3 linked regions of the Homo sapiens genome follow. The protein of the gene in region 3 interacts with the protein of the main gene of each other region in a pairwise test. Each region holds a gene or a part of one and is shown on either strand. Other genes may lie near its edges.

Region 1 (7,028 bases), on a different chromosome or scaffold from region 3:
CATCTCTCAAGAGATTCTTTCTTCTCTCCCAAGGGCTTTCAAATGGGGAGCATTCAAACAATTACAGAAGCCAACATTTATTGAGCACTCACTATGTGCCAAGCCCTGTGTCATGTGGTTTACTTTCTACTTTTCCAACAACCCTAGAGAGTAGGTATCATTATTATCCCCATTTTCCGAGGGGGAAACCTGGCACAAAGAGGTTCAGCATCTTGCCCCAGAACACCCAGCTCATAAAGTGTAAAGCCTGCCTCTTCACCCAAGCCAACCTTGGGTCCAAAATCTGACTCTATGACACATCAGTAAATTGCTATTTGTGGATCATTTTATGAGCAGTACTACGGTCCTGATGACACTATATATAGCAGTAATTTTGAAACATGGCTTATAATCAGGGCACGATCGCCTTTTAATTGCACCATCATGCCCCTGTCCATAAAGAGAGCCTCGAGTCTTGTCTCATAAAGGAGTAAAGATTATCCTTATTGTAAGAAGCATAACTGTGGCCCATTAAACAGACACACAAATGCCTCCATCCACAGTAATGGTGGGGTTGATACCTTAGCCATGAGAATGTAATTATCTTATGGAACTCATCTTCATGACACTGGAGATGGTAACAGAAAAAGTCTATACACACAGCCAGAAGAACCTCTCAGTCTGTTTAGGGGTGAGAGAGTCTGCAAAGTTCCATGACACACTCAGCATGGGGCTGCCTTAGACACACAGTGGTGACTTGCTCTTTAAAGCATCTCCATTGGCCTTCTTGACTCACTGGTCTCACCTCTTCCTTGCCCTACTGGAACTTCCTGGGAGCACCTCCCAGATAAGCCCTGTGCATTCAAATCCTGACCTAGAGTTGCCTTCTAGGGATTCATGTTGGTGGGGAGCACACAGGACTGAAAGTGGACTGAGGCCAATGACTTGGCTAAGTAAGGGATGCTGTGCACAGACCTATCCCTAACTCGACAAGATCTTCATGGTGACTCTAGTAGCCTCAGCTCTCCTGTTTGGATCAGCCACCTGGTACCCCTTGTTACCGTCATTTCCCAAATCAAAGTAACCTCTGAAAATCAGGACACTCAATTAATTTTAAAGTCAAGGACCTCTTCCATGCAGGGAAACCTAAAATTGGAAATGTGACCTTATCTCTGACTCCAAGGAGACTCCAGTGGACTCTTCCCTCCCCTTCTTGACAAGAAACCAAGGACCCACATGTTCTTACTTGTAAACCCATAATACTAAGACCAACTGAAGCAGGCCAGCAATGTTCACTGACTTTAAGAATATTCCTGGATCAATCGGCTAAGCTCTATTTTAGCCCCAGCCATTGACTGTAAATGTTAAACTCTAACCAACTTTAATGTGATCCATCATCAGTCACCTAAATTTTCAGGGACTTCTATATATCTACATTTTCAGAGGTAACTGACCTCAGAAGAGATTTATTCTAGTTCTAAACTTGACTGTAAACATTTAACAAATACCCAAGCAAGTACTAGGCACCATGCACTGTTTTTGCTACTGGGGATACTGTGGGAGAACAAGACAACATTCCTGCCATCTCAGAGCTTACATTCTAGAGAAAGAGGTAAAATAAGAAATTTACTTGTGGTGAAGCGATCTACATACTATGGAGTAAAATAAAGCTGAGAGGGGGAACAGGGAATGACACGTGGCAGTGGAGTTATGGTTTTCAATAATGTGCTCACAAGAGGCCTCACTGGGCAGGTGACATTTCAGAAAGACTTGAAGCTCAAGAGATAGCAAGCCTGTAAGATGATCAGGTGGGCACTAGCAGGCAGGACAGAGAAAGAGAAGTAATATCCTTAGGACAGGTCACGGGCAGCCTTGGAAGTCACTATAAGGACTTCGGCTTTCACTCAGATACAGAGACTACAGAAATGATTAATAATGGATTATTCCATTATGTAATTACTGAGCCATAAAAAGAGAAGATTTCTATTTAATCATAAAAGACACTGCTCAAATTACATTTTCTAATTTTGCTACATGCCTTCGGAAAAGTTGACATCCAGAACACATTAGACCCTCCACAGGACACTTAACTAGAAAGCAGAGTCAATATGATAGGACCAACCTTGACATCTGTTGAAACAACAAAATGAATTCATAAGAAATACTACATCGATGCCGACCTCCATAGGGGAGAAGTCTAGCAATGCACCAGTGTGTACTAGGGATTTTTCAAGGTTACAGATCTCACATATGAGCTGCAAAAAGACAGGCAGGCATGCAGTAACCTACTTTTTTAGGATGTGAATGTCAGCCCTTAACGAATTTGACAGCCTTTATTCTCAGTGTATACAAAATCAGTATATCCTGTTACTTGTATATACAAACTCAAGGAAAGGGCCACTAACACCAGAGAGTGGTGCTTTGCATTAAATAACCCTCGTTTACAAAGCAACATCCTTCATGTAAACCCTTGTGGTAAGGAGATGTCAGAATGTTTTCTCTTATAAACCACTTAATTCCCCTTGGTGGATATCATCAATTCTGCCATCTAAAACCAGCTGGGTAATGAATGCCAAGAAACACGGTGAGCCAACTGTATGCCATTGCCACAGAAGGTCAAGTTAATCTATTTTTAAATAACACAGCCAATGACAAGGGGTGGCCACTGGAAACGATGGACAAGTGCGTTGTACGTCCTTGCTTCATTTTTTGTAAAACCTGTACAGTGTTCCACAGTGTAACCTAAAAATATCCTTCCAAGAGTGGTCTTTTGGCACCAAGAACAAAAACAGGTTGATTTTTGAAAGTTTAAGTTAAAAAAAAAAAGACATAAATACAAAGTACAATTTAAGAGCGAGAGGGCTAAAATTGGATTGTGTTCTGTAGCAAAGATCTGATTTGCTATTAGCCAAAAAAAAAAGTACACAGGGACAATGCTGCAAGAAAACGGAGGGAAAGAATCATTTTTAGGCATGAGGACACAGGTCCCACATCAACAAAAAAAATCCTCATCATCCTGCCTGCTGAACATCTGAAATTTCACGTTTAGAGGCTCACTTGTTAAACTTCAGTTAGAGTCAACAGGCAGAAATACTTGAATAGGATTCATTAATCCTTGTCAGTCATTTATAGCCCAGTATAAATTATTAGACACAGAAAGCCTGCTAATTGGAAGATCTGATTACGAGAAAGTGAAGACCTCTGGATCCTAAACAAGAAGTAAAAGACAAATCGAGAGAAAGGGAGGAAAGATGTTGCAAGTGGCCTAGTTGCACTTACCTTCCGAAACAATGGAATAGTCATTCAGGCATCCAACCAATTTTAGTGAGCACCTATTATTTGCTGGGTCTTTTTTTTGAGATGAGTCTCACTCTGTCACCCAGGCTGGAGTGCAGTGGCGCGATCTCAGCTCACTGCAACCTCAGCCTCCCGGGTTCAAGCAATTCTCTGCCTCAGCCTCCCTAGTGGCTGGGATTACAGGCGCCCACCACCACGCCCGGCTAATTTTTTTGTTTTTTTTTTTTTTTTAGTAGAGACAGGGTTTCACCATCTTGGCCAGGCTGGTCTTGAACTCCTGACCTTGTGATCCACCCACCTCGGCCTCCCAAAGTGCTGGGATTACAGGCATGAGCCACCACGCCTGGCCCTGCTGGGTCTTTTTTAGACACTGAGAAATACAGCAGTGAACAAGAGAGACAAGCTTCTTGTTTTCATGGAACTTCTATTCTCATGGGAGGGGAAACAGACAATAAAGAAGAAACAGGGCCCGTTGCGGTGGCTCACGCCTACAATCCTAGCACTTCGGGAGGCCAAGGCGGCAGGCAGATTGCCTGAGCTCAAGAGACCAGCCTGGGCAACATGGCGAAACCCCACCTGTACTAAAATACAAAAAATTAGCCAGGCATGGTGGTACATGCCTATAATGCCAGCTACTCGGGAGGCTAAGCATCAGAATTGCTTGAACCCGGGAGGCAAAGGTTGCAGTGAGCCGAGATCGCACCACTGCACTCCAGCCTGGGCAACAGAGCGAAACTCCATCTCAAAAAAAAAAAAAAAAAAAACAACAACAACAACAACAGAAGATAATACGAGATTGTGTCAAGGCTATGAAGGAACAAACAGGGTGAGGGAATGGCACTTTACTCAGGGAGCTATCTTTTGTGTGTGTGTGTGAGATGGGGGTCTCACTCTGTCACCCAGGCTGGAGTGCAGTGGTACAATCTTGGCTCACTGCAACCTCTGCCTCCTGGTCTCAAGCGATTCTCCCACTCTGCCTCCCGAGTAGCTGGGACTACAGAAGTTCGCCACCACGCCCAGCTAGTTTATGTATTTTTTGGTAGAGACTTCACCATGTTGCCCAGGCTGGTCTTAAACTCCTGAGCTCAAGTGATCCACCCACCTTGGCCTCCCAAGGTGCTGGGATTACAGGTGAGCCACCACAAGGGCACTATCTTATATGCAGTCAGTGGTGTGTGGGGGCCAGCTCACATTGGCTTGGGAACAGCAAGTATACGCGTCTCTTCCCAACTCCAGCTATGCTATAAATCAGGGTCTACCCACTACTAGCACTGGTTGTTAAGCATTTTACAGCACACCAGAAGGAGGTCACTGAGGAGAAAGAAGCAAGACCAGAGATTCATGAGAAACCAAACAACTCTGAAAGACAAGGCCCTGTGTTTTAAAATGAGAGTTATTGTCATACATTCCAATGAATCAAAACAATACCAAAACAAAAAACCACACAAAGAACTATATTCAACCATATGTGATCACAATTTCCCTCATTACAGTGAGGGGAAGGGTCTGGTGGTGGTTTGGTTTGGCTTTTAAATTGTATCTCTTTTATTATCTCCACACTGCCACACATACACAAAAAGTAGAGGGATAGTTACAGTTCCTGGGTAATTTGAAAAACCACAAAATTCACCTGCAAAAATATGTAAGCATGACCTGTAATACACCACTTTGGGAAACTACAATCATACCATTTTAAACCTTTGGAGTCTGGGTGATTCATGGAAACAAAGGATTTCACGAGCACAAATAACCTGAAGAGGCTCACCCACTTATTTTTGGCATAGAGAAATGTAGGCTCCAAGAATGTGACTGGCAGAGCTTATTCTAGAACCCAGGTCACCTGTCTCATCTGATGTCATCTTCTCAATTTTGGTCTATACCCTAGTACAGTAGTTCTTAAAACTGAACCCTTGAATCCCTTAATAAGCCCATCAGAATCCCTTGAGGGTTTATTAAAACACCCCATGGTTGTTACCCCACCCCCCAACCCCAACCCCATCCCCCGCAAAGCTTCTGAATTGGTAGAACTAAGGTGGGGCCCAGGAATCTGGATTTCTAACCAGTTCCCAGGTTACTATACTAATGCCACTGGTCTGAGGACCTCACTTGGAGACCTACTGTCCCAGGAATTGGGAGCACAGGCTTTGGAATCAGACAGAGCTGGGTTGCAGCTCTACTGCCACTGTGGTATGACCCTTGGAAAAGTTACCCAAATTCTCTGAACCTCAGCTTCTAACATCTGAGTCCAATTGTAAGGACTGAAAAAGAGAATGCCCACGAAGCATCAGCTTAGCCAAGCACCTATTATATTCTAAGGCAAGATCTTAATACATACTAGCGACATCTTATATCCTGTATCAAAGTTTCCTTAATTACATTTTTCCGAAGCATATACTAGGACGGCTAAAATTCAAAAGACAAACAAAATCAAAGATGGCCAAAGATGTAGAGCAACTGAAACATTAATAACAGCTTTATTCGTAATAGTAAAAAATGGTAAATACTCCAAATGTCCATAAACAAGCAAAAGGACAAACTGGTATGTGTATACAATGGAATATTACTTAGCAATAAAAAAAGAACCAAATGAAGTACACATGCAACAAAACGAAATCTCCAAAATATTTTGTTGAGTAACAAAAGCCAAACACAAAAGAGTACATACTGCATTAGTTCATTTTTATGAAGTTGAAGACAAAATTATTCTATGGTAGATCTATGGTGCAGGGGGAGGGGGGAATTAACTGGACAGGAACATGAGAAAAATTTCTGGGGTGATGAAAATGTTCTCTATCTTCATTTGAGTGATTAACATGAGTGCATACATCGCTTAAAACTCATCAAATTATATATCTAAGATATGCATTTTACTATAGGTAAATGATACCTGAATACACATAATTATATATAACTTTGTAAAGGCATTTTATGACAAAGTACTGTCTTCCCCACTTAAAATGAACCAACTCCAACCTGACAAAGGACTGTCTTCTCCATTTAAAATGAACCAAGTCCAACCTGGCAGATCCATTGAGTTTGATTCCTGCACAATCCAGTCCTGTCACAGACAGTTTTGGTCCATGTATCTTTCCAGAGAACTGCCATGAAGTAGAAAAACAGAATTTTCTCCCACCATGTAGACAGTATCCAGAGTGATCTGTGTCCCTGGAAGTGGCTAACTTGGGATGCAAACAACACAAAAGTAGTATTTTTCTTTACCATATACCAAGTATGAGCCTGCTTGATATGACTTTAAAAGGCACAGTAATGAAGACACATTAAGAGCAATTCTGTCATACAATCTAAATCATATTCTCAACATGGAAGAGGGAGCAGAAAACTGGTGAAATGGTTTCTAGGGCCATCATTACTGGTAATGAAGACGTCAGAAGATCCAACTGTGCCTGTGTAATTATTACATGAAATAGTCACTTTCAGACTGCAATGAATTCCAGGCCATTCAGGTTTCCCAATCAGTATCATATTTCTATCCCATTACAAGTAGATTCACGTACATCCATCCATACATACATATACACACACACACAGAAACATACCCACACACTCGCCCCTGCTGTGAACAATCTGTGCACAAGGGGTGAAGAGAGCTAACACCTGGAGACACTACAGTTTCCTTTCAACTCAGAGGTGTCTGTTTCCAAACCCACTTGATTATCTCACCAAGCCTTCCTAAACTCCATGATGAGAGAGCCCTGGGACATCGCCTCCCAGAAATTTGGCAACTAGTGGAA
Region 2 (7,028 bases), on a different chromosome or scaffold from region 3:
GGAAGGTATTGCCAGGCAGCTTTCTCGGTTTGTAGGTTTGGGGAAAATATCCTGCCCTGGAGGGGAAACCCCATCTTGCCCAAAGCGTGTAGTCAGCATTTCTGCATTTCCCAGGTCTCAGGAAGGAGGTGGCAGGGGAACCTGGGAACAGGGTGGTTTGAGGTGACCTTGACCATGGCCCTGAACCTTAGGGGGACAGAGATGCCAGAGTAGCGTGAGTGCCTGGAGAATGATTAGGGAGCAGCAGGCCCATGGGAAGCTGGCTTCACCCATTAGGTGGGCAGGATTCAGGGAATGACTGCTTTCCCCAAATGCCCTTTCCCAGAAATGCAGATGGCTCAGCAAGCCGCAGCCTCTTAAGAAGCCTGTCCCAGCTCATCCTCCAGGAGAGCTTTCCTTCTCCTTAGCTCTGGTGCTCATTCTGGGGGATACCTTGGGCCAGGAAGCCAGGAATGATTTTGGACATTGTCCCTCTCCGATCTGGTCATTTTCAAGGGAATACTAATGCCCTGGCAGGGCAGACTGTGTGTAAAAAAGGGATGGGATGGCCTAATGGATATGAAGAAGAGTGCATCAGAGGAGGGCCCTCATGGCAAAGGAACCCAGTGGGTCTAACCCAGTGAAGGTCACCAGGGGACCTTCCTCCACGCGTGGCTCCAGAGCTGGGCTTAGGAGCCTGGCTTAAGAGATGGGACCCAGCTCTGGGTGTTACCTGTGAGTGAAGGTTGATGGAGGGCTGGTTGGGGGAGTAGGGCCCCCCTAGATCATTCCTGAGCAGGTTGTCGCTGTGCATCTTGGTTTTGAGGCAGGTGATGTAACGGTTACAAAAGTCCTTGCAGAGTTCATTGACTTTCTCCAGCTCCAGCAGGTGGATTCTCAGGACCTGGATTGCCTTCACCATCTGTGGAGAGGGAGGAGAGGTGAGCCCAGGTGTTTGCATCCCATTTCCCTCACTGCCTGGACCCCCAGCCCCCACCACCCCAGGGGAGGGGAGCCCACCCCCTGCCGTAGCTCATGCTTCCTACACTTGATCTTGGCCAAAAGGCCCAGAAGTGGTAGGCGGTGCCTTCTCATCCCCATGACTTCAGTTCTAATGATGGCTCTCTGCTAATTATTCCTTTGCTCTGAGCCCTCTGTTATCACAGCTGTTCTTGAGGCAGTTGTGGTATTCTGAGAACAGCATTGGCCTTAGCGATGGGAGGCCAGGTCCAAGCCCCCGGCCTGTCATTTACTATCTGTGTGAGCTTGGGCAAGTTGCTCAAGCTCTCTGTGCCTTAGTGGCTAACAAATGGGGATAATTAGATTCTCCCTGACAACTTTACAGGTTTGTTGTGAGTATTGTATGAGGGCGTATACATGGTAGCACATTGTGAGGTGTGAAGGACCAGGCAAGCCTGAGGAAGATGGAGATCAGAATTTCTTATAAGTGCCTCTAGAGCTCAGGGACTGTCTATTCTTAAACAAGCATTCTGAGTGCCTCATGGGATACCGGTTACCTTGTGGACGCTCTGTGGATACTTGCTGATGGACTGAATAATCCAGCATGACTTAGCTGGGCACCAGCTACCTCACTGTCTGCTGTGGCCTTTTCCATGCCCTTTGGATTGCTGTACGGGAGCCTGCTGCCTCTTCAAATGGACATTCCTAACCTTTTCGTGGCAAGAAGCTATTTTGCAATTGAAGCTTTGCTCTTTACTGCTGTTATTATCATAAAAAGAAAATACTATGGAAGGTATGGAAAGCAGGGTGAAAAAAACCTGTCTTCGATCCAATCGCCTTAAAGAATGATTTTTTCCTACACCCATATATTTTAACATAGTTTCAATAACCTTGTGCATGCAATTTTGTTTTCTGTTTTTTCCCTCTAGTTTAGCAAATCTATTTTTCTAAGTGCCAGAATTGTTTTCTCTATCCTCTCTTCTAGACTATGAGCTTTGAGAAGGCAGGGATGATGTCTAATTTGCTCACCATGTTATCTTCAGCACGAACACATATGGATATGGAGTAAACATTTGCTGAATGGGTGAAAGTTATTGAGTAAACATATTTTTAAATGTTGCATATTATTTCATGTGTGTGCCATACTTAACCAGTCTCCTATTGTTAGGTATTTAGATTACTTCCAATTTTTCAATTTTATAAAAAATGTTACAGTGAATATTTTCTAAGCTTATAGCTTTTTTTTTTTTTTTTTAAAAGTTTCTGCATTATTCTTTAGGATGAATTCCCAGAAGTGACAGGAAAAAAAGCTATGAACGTTCTTGTGGATTATGATAAATATTGCCAAATTGCTTTTCAACAGGGGGTTGTTCAAATGGTGCTAGAATAATTAGACATCCACATGCAAAAAAACTGAATCTTGATTTAAACCTCATACCTTAGATGAGATTAACTCAAAATGGATCAAAGACATAAATGTAAGACAGAAAACTATAAACCTCTTAAAAAAAAACAGGAAAAAATCTTCAGGATCTAGGGTGAGGCAAAGAGATCTTAGAGTTGACACCAAAAGCATGATCCAGGCTGGGCACAGTGGCTCACGCCTGTAATCCCAGCACTTTGGGACATCGAGGCAGGAGGATCACTTGAGGTCAGGAGTTTGAGACCAGCCTGGCCAACATGGTGAAACCCCATATCTACTAAAATTACAAAAATTAGCCAGTGGTGGTTGTGCATGCCTGAAGTCCCAGCTACTTGGGAGGCTGAGGCAGGAGAATCGCTTGAACCCAGGAGGTGGACGTTACAGTGAGCCGAGATGGAGCCACTGCACTCCAGCTTGGGCGACAGAGCGCAACTCCATCTAAAAAAAAAAAAAAAAAAAGATGATCCAGTGAGGAACTGGACGCTGTCAAAATTAAAAATGTTTACTCTTCAAAAGACCCTGTGAAGAAGAGGAAAAGACTACATACTGGAGGAGAATATTTGCAAACCAAGTACCTGACAAAGGACTTGTATCTAGGATATATAAAGAACTCTCAAAACAAAACAGTAAAATAACAAGCAACCCAATTAGAACATGGTCATAAGACATGATTAGACATTTCACTGAAGAGGATATACAGATGGCAAATAAGCACAAGAGAAGATATTCAATGTCATTAGTCACTAGGGAAATGCAAATTAAAACCACAATGAGATATCACTACACACCTATTGGTATGGTTAAAATAAAAGAAATAAATATGACAACACCAAATGCTGGTGAGGAACTGGAGACTAGAACACTCAGACATTGCTGTTAAGAGTGTAAAATGGTACAGCCACTCTGGAAAACAGTATGACAATTTCTTACAAAACTAAATATGTGCGTACCATATGACCCAGCAATTGTACTCTTGGGCATTTATCCCAGAGAAATAAAAACATATGTTCTTACAAAAACCTGTATACAAATTGTTCAAAGCAGCTTTACTTCTAATAGTCAAAAATCGGAAACAACCCAAATGTACTTCAATGGGTGAATGGATAAAGAAACTGTAATTCATCCATATCATGGAATATAACTCAGCAATAAAAAAGAATGAGCTATTGATATGCCCAACAATGTGGATAGATTGCAAGGGAATTTTCCTGAGAGACAAAAGCCAGTCTCAAAGGATTATATACTATATGATGCCATTTACAAAACGTTTTTGAAATGACAAAATTATAGAGATGGAAGACAGAAAGACAGATTAGTGGTTGACAGCGGTAGAGTGGAGGAGGGAGGGAGGAACTGTTCTGTACTTTGCTATAACAATGTTTATGTGGATCTAAGTATATGATAAAATTGCACAGAACTAATTACATGTACACACACACACACACACACACACGAGGGCACGTAAAACTGGTGAAATCTGAATACAGTTGGTGGATTGTTCCTGGCTGTGAAATTGTGCTATGGTTATACAAGATGTGAATCAGGAGCTCTCTGTATGAGTTCTTATAACTGCATGTGAATCTACATTTATATCAAAATTAAATGTAACCGCTAGGAGCGGGTGATGCTTATTGCTTTTCCAGATCCATTTATGTTGACGCAAGCAATATATGGGATCTCTTTTTAGTCCCACCCTCCTAGCTTTTGGCTAGCTCCTGGATGCCTAGAGGAGAGTTTGGACAATATAAAAAGGGATGGAAACAAGGAAGGAAATCTCTCCCAGAGAATTGTGACTGTGAGGTGTGTGTAGAGAAGTGTGGCTTGAAGCCAGCATTACACCCTTCTCTGAGCCTCATTGGCATTTCAAGTGGGGAGCCCACATTCCCTGGGCTGGGCTTGTGGCTTGTCTGATGAGCAGGGATTGTGCTCAACTAATTAAGGGTTTTTGGAGTACTAAATTAGACCAAGTGTCACTCAAAGACAGAAAGCAGCGATTGTGTGTCGTCATGCAGGGCTCAGTCACAAGGTCTCCTCCTAAGAAGTACCACCTCTGTGGGGCTGAGACTGAGGGAGACTGAGCCATCCTAAGCAAAGAGGAAAATTGTGACTTTAGAATGGATCATTTGGACCCCAAAGTGGAGTTAAGTACTTAATAAAGATTTGTTCTTGCCTAATGTTCTACTTGACTTTGGCCACGAACATCTTGGTCTATGTCTCTCAGTGTAATGAGCACAGGATAAGGTACTTAACACATATGCGTTGCTGGATTGTTAATAATACCCAAACGTTTCTTATTCAGACTGTGTCTCAGGCACTGTGTTAAGCCCATTCCAGGCCTTATTTATTCCACACAACCATCTCATTAAGTAGGTACCATTATTGCTCATATTTTGCATTTGAAGAAAATAAAATCCAAAAATATTACGTTTCCTTGCTTAGAGTCACACAACTGGTGAGCGATATGAAGCCAGGTTGCCCCACCCCCCACCCGTGTGCCTTGTCTTTCAATATGGACTCTCAGGATTATGTAGGTAGAGGAAGTGGTAGTATAAAGGGTGCGTGGTTTGGGAGAAAGTGGCTCAGTGACAGCAAGTACGGGGTTCTAGGAAGCCAAGTAGCTTTTGAGACATCAAAGTTTAGGATTTCCAGAACCCTTCCTGGTAATGTGCCTTTTCTCAGCTGCTCTGATCTCCCATCTCTCACTCCTGGCACAGCCCCCCGGGGTCCAAACACCTCACCAACACAGGTGCCTGCTTCTCCATGTGCACACGGAGAGGGCTGGACTGTCAGGTCCCTTACGTTTTCTGACTCTCTGAACATTACCAGGACTTCTGCCCTCAATTCACGCCTGATGGTGTTAGAATGAACCCCACACGGTGACCTGGACCAGCCTCTAGGTGGCTGCACAGTCCAAACTCATCAGGACACAGGCTGCATCTTCTCCTCCAGCCTCTCCCGGTCACTGGGCGATGACCTTGTTGCCTCGGACCTTCTCCATATTCTCTCAGTCTGCTGATTAGAAGCTTTTCCTTATATTCAATCAAAATCTCTCCCGCCTTAATGTAAAGTGCCTTCTGTAGGCACCAAGAACATCGAGGAACTTCTAGGACCTCTATCAACACAACTTCTTTTTAATTTAATTTTATTCATTCAACAAGTATTGAGTCTTACTATATGCCACATATTGGACCAGGCATCTGACTTGAACAAGTTGTTCAATTAACTTTCTCTTCTCTCTTTTTTTTTTTTTTTTTGAGACGAGTCTTGCTCTGTCGCCCAGGCTGGAGTGCAGTGGCGCGATCTCGACTCACTGCAAGCTCCACCTCCTGGTTCACGCCATTCTCCTGCCTCAGCCTCCCAAGCAGCTGGGACCACGCCCGCCACCACGCCGGGCTAATTTTTTTTTTTATGTATTTTTAGTAGAGACAGGGTTTCACTGTGTTTCCCAGGATAGTCTCGATCTCCTGACCTCATGATCCGCCCACCTTGGCCTCCCAAAGTGCTGGGATTACAGGCGTGAGCCACCGCGCCCGGCCAAACTTTCTCTTTTCTAGACAAAAACGATCGTCATTCCTTAAACCTTTCTTCTCTTTCCCTTCCCCGTTCCTTCTTTCCTCCCTCCTTTCTTTCCTTTTTTCCTTCTTTCTCACACACATACATATATTCACACATACACAGAGAAAAGTGCACTTACCTATTCATTTATTTTAAATATATAACCAATTTATACTTACTTTATAAAATCAGAAAATACAGGTAAGTAAAACAAAAGTAAAATATACTCAGAAGAGCTTTGCTCAAATAAAATACACGCACAGCATGTTTAAACCAGGTCTGGTGCACAGTGACCAAAAGTGGACTTATCCTTTGGTCTAATAAAGTGCAGCTGAAGGATTACTTTTTTATGGGCTAATGGAATTGGTTGAAAGATTTAAGGAGGTAGAGTAAATCATAATGGTATTCTGAGGCAATGAATATGTAGGACCTGTTCAATATTAGAAAGGTAGGCAACACTATCAATGTTAGAGGGCTGCCTGGCAGGGCAGGAACACTGTGGGTTCATTGTCAGGCAGCCTGGATTTGAGTCCGAGCCCGCTCTCTGTTAATTGGGTGCCGTTGGGCAAATTCCATGATTTCTCTGAGCCTCAGTCTCTTTACGTGTAAAATGGGGATAATGTTCATCTCTAACTCACAAGATTTGAAAGGGGCTAAAGGAGATAATGATGTAAACATGCTTTATAAACCACAGTAAACCAAATGCATGCAAGTTGTAAAAATAATCTCTTCTAATAATGTCTGATATCCCATTGGCTTTTCTACTGCTATTCTACGTCCAGCCAGTGAAAAAATAGTAACTCCAAGGGTCTTTTTTGCTCCCATATTTGTGTTTAGTAAATCATCCTCTATCCTGTGTTTACAATTTTGGATTTTTGTCTCCAAGTTAGAAAATTCTGATTTATTAAACTATTTTTCTAAATGATCGGGGTCATGTGAAAATTTATTCCAAATCTTCTAGGGCAATAACAATGCCACTTAATTCAACATCACCGCCAAATGTGGTGAATGCATCCTTAATTCCTCTCCCCAGGTGTTGCTCCATCTTTCAGCTTCTTTCCCTCCCTTCTCTTTCAAAATAATGATTCAGCCCTCTTTTTCTAAGAAGTCT
Region 3 (7,028 bases):
TCCTCACCAGCATCAGGGAACTTCTCATGCAACGAGTCCTTCAGCACTTTGGCAATGAAGCGCATCCCATAACTGCGGGATGGACAAAACTTAGTGAGAAGGGCCAAGGAGCAGAAAGGCACTTAGTGCTGGGTTCTACTGGGGGTCATGACAACTGATGGCACTCACGGGATTTTGTCCACAGAGCTGACAATGGCTGAGAGAAACTTGTCTGTCACAGCCCGCATGTTCCTGATGGAGCTGTCTAGCCGTGTCTTCACTTCTTCATGAGCTAGCGCCTGCTCAGGGGTCACATCATAGGGCAGTTTGCTGGGAAGACAGAAATTATACCCAACTATGTTAGACTAACAGCCAGGAACAGCCTGAAGCAAGTGTCTTATCTTTCATAAACTATAAGACCCAGAAATATTAGATAGCTTAAGCTCATCCTCACGGGGCTGGTAAGTGATAAGTCTAGAATCTGAACGCAGGTTTTTAACTGTGAATCAGGTGCCTGAATTGTGTGCCAGGCACAATAACAGGCACTTGGGAATAAAAGTTATACAAGACATGACACCTTCTCTTCAGTCTTTTACAGTCTGGTGGGAGCGACACACAAACAGATGATTATAAACCTATTGTGCTGTAAATCAGTTCACCAAAAGTGCCACAGGACCATAGGGAAAGGGCTTCAACTCAGAATGGAAAAAGCAAGGAAAGCTTCCAAAACGAAGGGATGCTTGAACTCAGGAAAAAAGGAGAGGAAGAGTCTTCTAGGAAGGAAGGGGAGACAGGAGAAATGACAGTGGAAAAGCAGACAGGGAGCAGGCCATGACAGACCCCGTATATGATACTGACAAATCTGGACTTTGTTAGAAACCAGAAGGAGGTCTTCAAGGATAGGAGTGCTATGCCAGGCACAGCAGCACATGCTAGCATTCCCAGCTACTAGGAAGGCTGAGGTGGGAGGACTGCTTGAGCAAGACCTTGTCTTAAAAAAAAAAAAAAAAAAAAAAAAAAGAGGCAGAGAGAGCTTTGGTACACACAGAAGGGGAAGAGAAGGCAATGTGACCACAAAGGCAGAGGCTGGAACCACACAGCCACAAGTTGAGGGATGTCAACAGTCACCACAAGCTCTAAGAGTCAAGAAACAGAGTTTCCACTAGAGCCTCTGCAGGGAGCGTGGCTCTTCCAGCACCTCGACTTCATGATAATGGTTTCAAATTTCTGGCCTCCACAATTGTGAGACCATGACTTTCGGTTGTTTTAAGCCACCCAATTTGAGGTGATTTGTTATGGCAGCCTTAGAAAATACAAGTAGAGGCCGGGTGTGGTGGCTCACGCCTGTCATCCTAGCACTTTGGGAGGCCGAGGCGGGTGGATCACCTGAGGTCAGGAGTTTGAGACCAGCCTGGCCAACATGGAGAAACCCCATCTTTACTATAAATACAAAAATTAGCCAGGCGTGTGGCGCATGCCTGTAATCCCAGCTATTCGGGAGGCTGAGGCAGCAGAATCGCTTGAACCAGGGAGGCAGAGGTTGCAGTGAGCTGAGATTACACCATTGCACTCCAGCCTGACCAACAGAACGAGACTCTGTCTCAACCACAACAACAAAAAGAAAAATACAAGTAGATAGGGATACCCCTCTTCATTTGTCATAGCATGGCTAAATTAAAATTGGTAGACTATGAACACAAAAATTCTGCAAAAATCAACAGAAACATTCTATGAGAAATAAATAAATACATGGAACTTAACAATAAAGAATATTGTATATTTTATTATTTATATGAGTTTTAAAAGTAGTAACCAGCAAGGGAATCAATATGCTAAAAAACGTTGGTGATAGAACAGAACATTAACTTTGAGATTTTAGGAAAGAACATTCCCAAGAGGTGACAAGATTCCAGTTTGCTACGTGTATGGTGGCTGAAGTAAAAGAAGAAAGCTAAGGGACCTGTGATGCTTACCTGCAGGACAGATCCCCACCACACCACCATCCCTCACAGTCACTGGTATCTTAAAAAGAGTTCAAATCAATTTCCTTTTTTTTTTTTTTTTTTTTTAAGATATGGGGTCTACATTGCCCAGGCAGTGCTCAAACTCCTGGGCTCAAGCGATCTTCCTGTCTTGGCCTCCTGAGCAACTGGGACTACTGGTGCATGCCACCATGCCTGGCTCAATTTCCATTTTATGAAAGGCAAAATAAGACACCAGTTTCTTATAGGTACCCACAAGAAAACCAATCCTGAAATGTCCAGCGGGCTTTGGATCTGAAAATGACTGACTCATGGACCATCAGAGGAAATAACTGAGAAGCCCGGAGCCAGTGTACATGGGGCTATCGGCAAGGAATGCCCTGGGTTGCAGGCAAAACTTCCCAGACAAGTATTGCACTTGGCTGACCACATTCCTGGATGTGGGCCTCAGGTATGCAGGCAAAAAAATTAAAAAGACTTTTGCAATGATCTGAGTCCTGATAACAGACCTACATGGTACTGAGAACCAATCAGATGCCAAATGATTCCTAATAAGGAAACGCCCCTTCTTTCTTTTTTTGTCAACCAGGATGGAGTGCAGTGGCGCCATCAAGGCACACTGCAGCCTCAACCTCCCATGCTCAACCTATCCTCCTGCCTCAGCCTCTGGAATAGCTGGAACTACAGGTGTGCACAACCACACCCAGCTAATTTTTTTTTTTTTTTTTTTTAAGTAGGGACAAGGTATCCCTATGTTACCCAGGCTGGTCTCAAACTCCTGAGCTCAAGCAATCCTCCCACCTCAGCCTCCCAAAGAGCTGGGATTACAGTCGTGAGCTACCATGGCTGGTGAGATAAGCCCTTTCAAGGAGTCAGCAGAATGTTCCGTTCTCCACCCAGCGTAAAACTCCCTGTTTGCCTGGCATCCGGGTACATGGAAAGTAGAATGAAGAATAGTGTTATTCAAAGTGTGGACCAGTGCCAGTCTACAAACTGATCAAAGACAAGATAAAGACAATGAGTCAGAATGTAAATCAATACATTACTTCCTTCATTAAGAAAATCTTGCTATGAAAAAAAAAGTATCAGTTAAACTAAACAGTGTGCACAGATGATTTTCCATTACTGGTGTGCAAACCACACTTTGAATAGCAATGGTGTGGACAGCTGCTACTCCACCTATGCCCAGAGAGCTTCATGCATGATCTAACTCTACTCCACAACAAGAAAAAACCACAACAGACCATGCTGCTCACACCTCCATCTCCCACCCCTCTGGGTCCTCACCCAAGACAAATAAAACCAGAAACGTTTTGGCATTCTGAACTCCCTTTTCCCAGCATTACCAATATTTGATTGGCACACTTTTGCTTTAGATAAATGAATGTTGGTGGTTACGCTATGGCCCTAGCTCAGCTATCTCCTGTAATACGTTAATTTAATTAGCCCAACTCACGATATTTCAGGGAAGCTCACTCCACACCGTTTTCTTTTTCCTTTAATGAAACACAGTGATCTCACCCAATCTATATGAACCTTCTCATTCAACTGTATCCCTAGTTATGCCAGGGTCCATTTAAGTCCTACACCCTCCAGCTTAGAGTGTTCAGACATAAACACTCTGCACCTAGCTCTTAGTAAGGCTGGGTTCATCTTAGCTTTAGGGCCTCAGCTAAATGAAATTTTATCTTCCGGGATAGGCTTTCCCTAACCACCTTATGTTAGCTCCCTCTTATAAAGTCTCCATTAAAGAACCGTACATAAAACTTCATAAAACTTTCTTCAATGTTTAATTATGCTTTTATTTTTATGTACCTGGTTGGTGTCTCTTCCACCCAATGAACTATGAAGAGAGGGCAGGAAGCATGTCTGTTTCACTCATTATTGCATTACTGTACACATCTCTAACACAATGCCTGGCACATAGTTAATACTCAATAAATATTTGCTAAATAAGTGAATTTATTACTAGGTCAACAACTTAGAAAGCACAGTTTTCTAAAGAAAAACTATTTGAGGCTGGGTGTGGTGGCTCACAGCTGTAATCACAGCACTTTGGGAGGCCGAGGCAGATGGATTGCCTGAGGTCAGGAGTTCGAGACCAGTCTGGCCAACATGGTGAAACCCAGTCTTACTAAAAATACAAAAATCAGACAGGTGTGGTAGCGTGCAACTGTAATCCCAGCTACTCGGGAGGCTGGGGCATGAGAATTGCTTAGACCTGGGAGGTGGAGGCTGCAGTGAGCTGAGATTATGCCACTGTACTCCAGCCTGGACGACAAGAGTGAAACTCTGTCTAAAAAAAGAAAAGAAAAGAAAAACTATTTGAACTAATATTAGTTTATAAATAAAGAGAGGGGAAAAAAGAGGGAAAGACTATAACAACATGAAAGAAAAGTGTCATTATGGTTAACATACCTTGCCTCTCCTGTCTGAGACTCCATCTGATTAACCCAAGATTTGTAAATATCCACAGGGTCAGTTTTGATGTTGAGAGATTTGTCATCCATAATTTCCTTCACGACTGGGGCCAAGATCTGTCTCAGGGCATTCTGGCCACGGGCACCACGGTTGAAACTTACAACCATTTTAATAACCGTAGGATTTCCTGTCACAATCTCTTGAATCTGATCTACCTTCGACCTATAAAACATCAGATAAAAATTTAAACTTGTCACAAAACCCATCAACTTAAAAGATCCTTCCTGCTTAAAGATCCTATCTCCCTGAAACAGTTTCTCTCGAAACATTCCCCAGCACTCACAGAATGTTCCTGCAGCTGCACGCTCAATCGTGGTCATGATTGGGTCCGCTACTAGATAAAAATGTGAATTCTTTCTGTTCAGATTACTTTTTGAAATTATACCTTAATACAGAATGTTCCTAAAGTTAATTTATCCCTTCCCTAGAAGCAGCAAGATTTTATATCAGTTATTTAAAAATTAGATGCTTCTTTAGAGTAAGTATTTTTCATAAATTAATTGAGATCAAGAAAAGATCAGGAAGGCATGAATCTCAAACTGGGAGCCCCTCTGATAGTGGGAAGGGGCCTGTGCCCTGAGGAAATCTGTTCATACTTGATTTCCTCTTGGAGTGCTGTCTTAAAGAGCCGCAGGAGCAGGTACTCCTCTCGCTGGTTGGACGCGTAGTTGTAGAGTGTGAAGATTACAGAGTCCATGAACTTGGTGGACTTGTTCTGGGGCATCTGAAAAATGAGCTTGGCCAGATAGGTGGGATTGGTCTGAAATAAAACCAAGGGATAAGTCATTTGTAGGTAATATAAAGGCTGGCAAGATATATTCAATTATTTAAAATTGAAGGACTACAATACATATGAGAAAAAAGATTAATAAATTAACATGTTACAGTGCCCCTCACTCACCCCTCAGTGGAAGTCAAAAATACTTCCAGAGAGATCGATGGTAAGGCTTTCTTGTGGAAAAATAAATTCACTAAATTTTTATAACACTGATTCCAGGAGCCACTTACTTGCAATAAATAAAACAGGTGCTGGTAAGCTTCCAACTTCTCTCTCTTCTCCTTGCTCAAAGCCTTGAGACCTCCCTTCTGTTTATTTATCATCATCATATCAGACAACTGTTCCTTATTTTTTTTGGTAAGTTTTTTACTGTGGGAAACCACATCCTATAAACAAAAACCAATAAATAGATCAGAAAGCTTTCAAAGATGAACCTCTGGGCATTGAGGAAAGGTTTTGCAGCATGTGCAAACTCACATGAAGGTGTACTGCACTGGCAGATTCCCACTGAATATTTAAAAACCACTACACTTTATCCTGTTTTCAGTACACCAGTCAAATCCATTCCTATGTTCCAACAAAGAATCTGAGCCATAAGAATGTCCACTGAATTGGCAAACCAACTTCCAGCAGTCTATTATAAAAATAAGTCTTAAATACAATAAAAGCTACATATATATTGAAACATTAATTGCAATGTTATTTATAATAAACGCTTGGAAAACAACCTAAATGTCAAATACTAGGGGAAAAAGAGGTAAATCATAGTATATCTTCTAAAAATCTAATATGCTACTGTTAAAAATAATATTTATGGCTGGGTGCAGCGGCTCACACCTGTAATCCCAGCACTTTGGGAGGCTGAGGCAGGAGGATCACCTGAGCCCAGGAGTTTTGAGACCAGCCTGGGCAATACAAAGATACCCTATCTCTTATAAAAATATAATTTGCCAGACGTGGTGGCATGCACCTGTCGTCCTAGCTACTTGAGAGGCTGAAGTGGGAGAATCACTTGAGCCTAGGAGGTCGAGGTTGCAGTGAGTCATGATCATGCCACTGCACTCCAGCCTGGGGTACAGAGGGAAACTCTGTTTCAAAAAATAAAATTAAAAAAAAATTATGACTACTTATCATAGGGAAAGAGTCTTATCCTTTAATATGAAGTAAGAATGTAAGATACAAAATGACTGGGGTAGGTGAAATTAGGGGAAGACATTTATCTTCTTTTCTCTATCAAAATTTTGTCAATTAAGTTGTTTTATGTCTTAAATAATTTTTTTTTTTTTTTTTTTTTTGGAGATAGAGTTTCACTCTGTCACCCAGTCCGGAGTGCAGTCATGCAATCTTGGCTCACTGCAACCTCTGCCTCCCAGGTTCAAGCGATTCTTCCACCTCAGCCTCCTGAGTAGCTGAAATTACAGGCATGTACTACCATGTCCAGCTAATTTTTTTTAATTTTTAGTAGAGACAGGGTTTCACCATGTTGGCCTGGCTGGTCTCAAACTCCTGGCTTCAAGTGATCCGCCCTTCTCGGCCTCCCAAAGTGCTGGGATTATAGGTGTGAGCCATCATGCCTGACCTGTCTTACATAACTTTTTTAAAAGCTTATGATGGCCGGGCATGGTGGCTCATGTTTGTAATCCCAGCACTTTGGGAAGCCAAGGTGAGTGGATCAATCACTTGAGGCCAGGAGTTCCAGACCAGCCTGGCCAACATGGTGAAACCCCCGTCTCTACTAAAAATGCAAAAAAGCCGGGTGTCGTGGCTCACGCCTGTAATCCCAGCACTTTGGGAGGCTGAGGCGGGTG

What was found. The genes of interacting proteins can lie anywhere in the genome.
Region 1: the proteins of IQGAP1 (region 3) and MAGI1 interact in binary tests that used the Homo sapiens proteins (3 or more experiments, as listed by UniProt).
Region 2: the proteins of IQGAP1 (region 3) and PKNOX2 interact in binary tests that used the Homo sapiens proteins (3 or more experiments, as listed by UniProt).

Annotation. Positions count from the first base shown.
Region 1 is NC_000003.12:66,028,895-66,035,922, forward strand, and holds part of MAGI1 (membrane-associated guanylate kinase, WW and PDZ domain-containing protein 1), read right to left. Parts: intron 1-7,028. UniProt on the Homo sapiens protein: Plays a role in coupling actin fibers to cell junctions in endothelial cells, via its interaction with AMOTL2 and CDH5. May regulate acid-induced ASIC3 currents by modulating its expression at the cell surface.
Region 2 is NC_000011.10:125,391,747-125,398,774, reverse strand, and holds part of PKNOX2 (homeobox protein PKNOX2), read right to left. Parts: intron 2,801-7,028; exon of another isoform or gene 2,679-2,800; intron 902-2,678; coding exon 713-901; intron 1-712.
Region 3 is NC_000015.10:90,475,241-90,482,268, reverse strand, and holds part of IQGAP1 (ras GTPase-activating-like protein IQGAP1), read right to left. Parts: intron 5,607-7,028; coding exon 5,451-5,606; intron 5,203-5,450; coding exon 5,039-5,202; intron 4,605-5,038; coding exon 4,380-4,604; intron 310-4,379; coding exon 169-309; intron 73-168; coding exon 1-72. UniProt on the Homo sapiens protein: Plays a crucial role in regulating the dynamics and assembly of the actin cytoskeleton.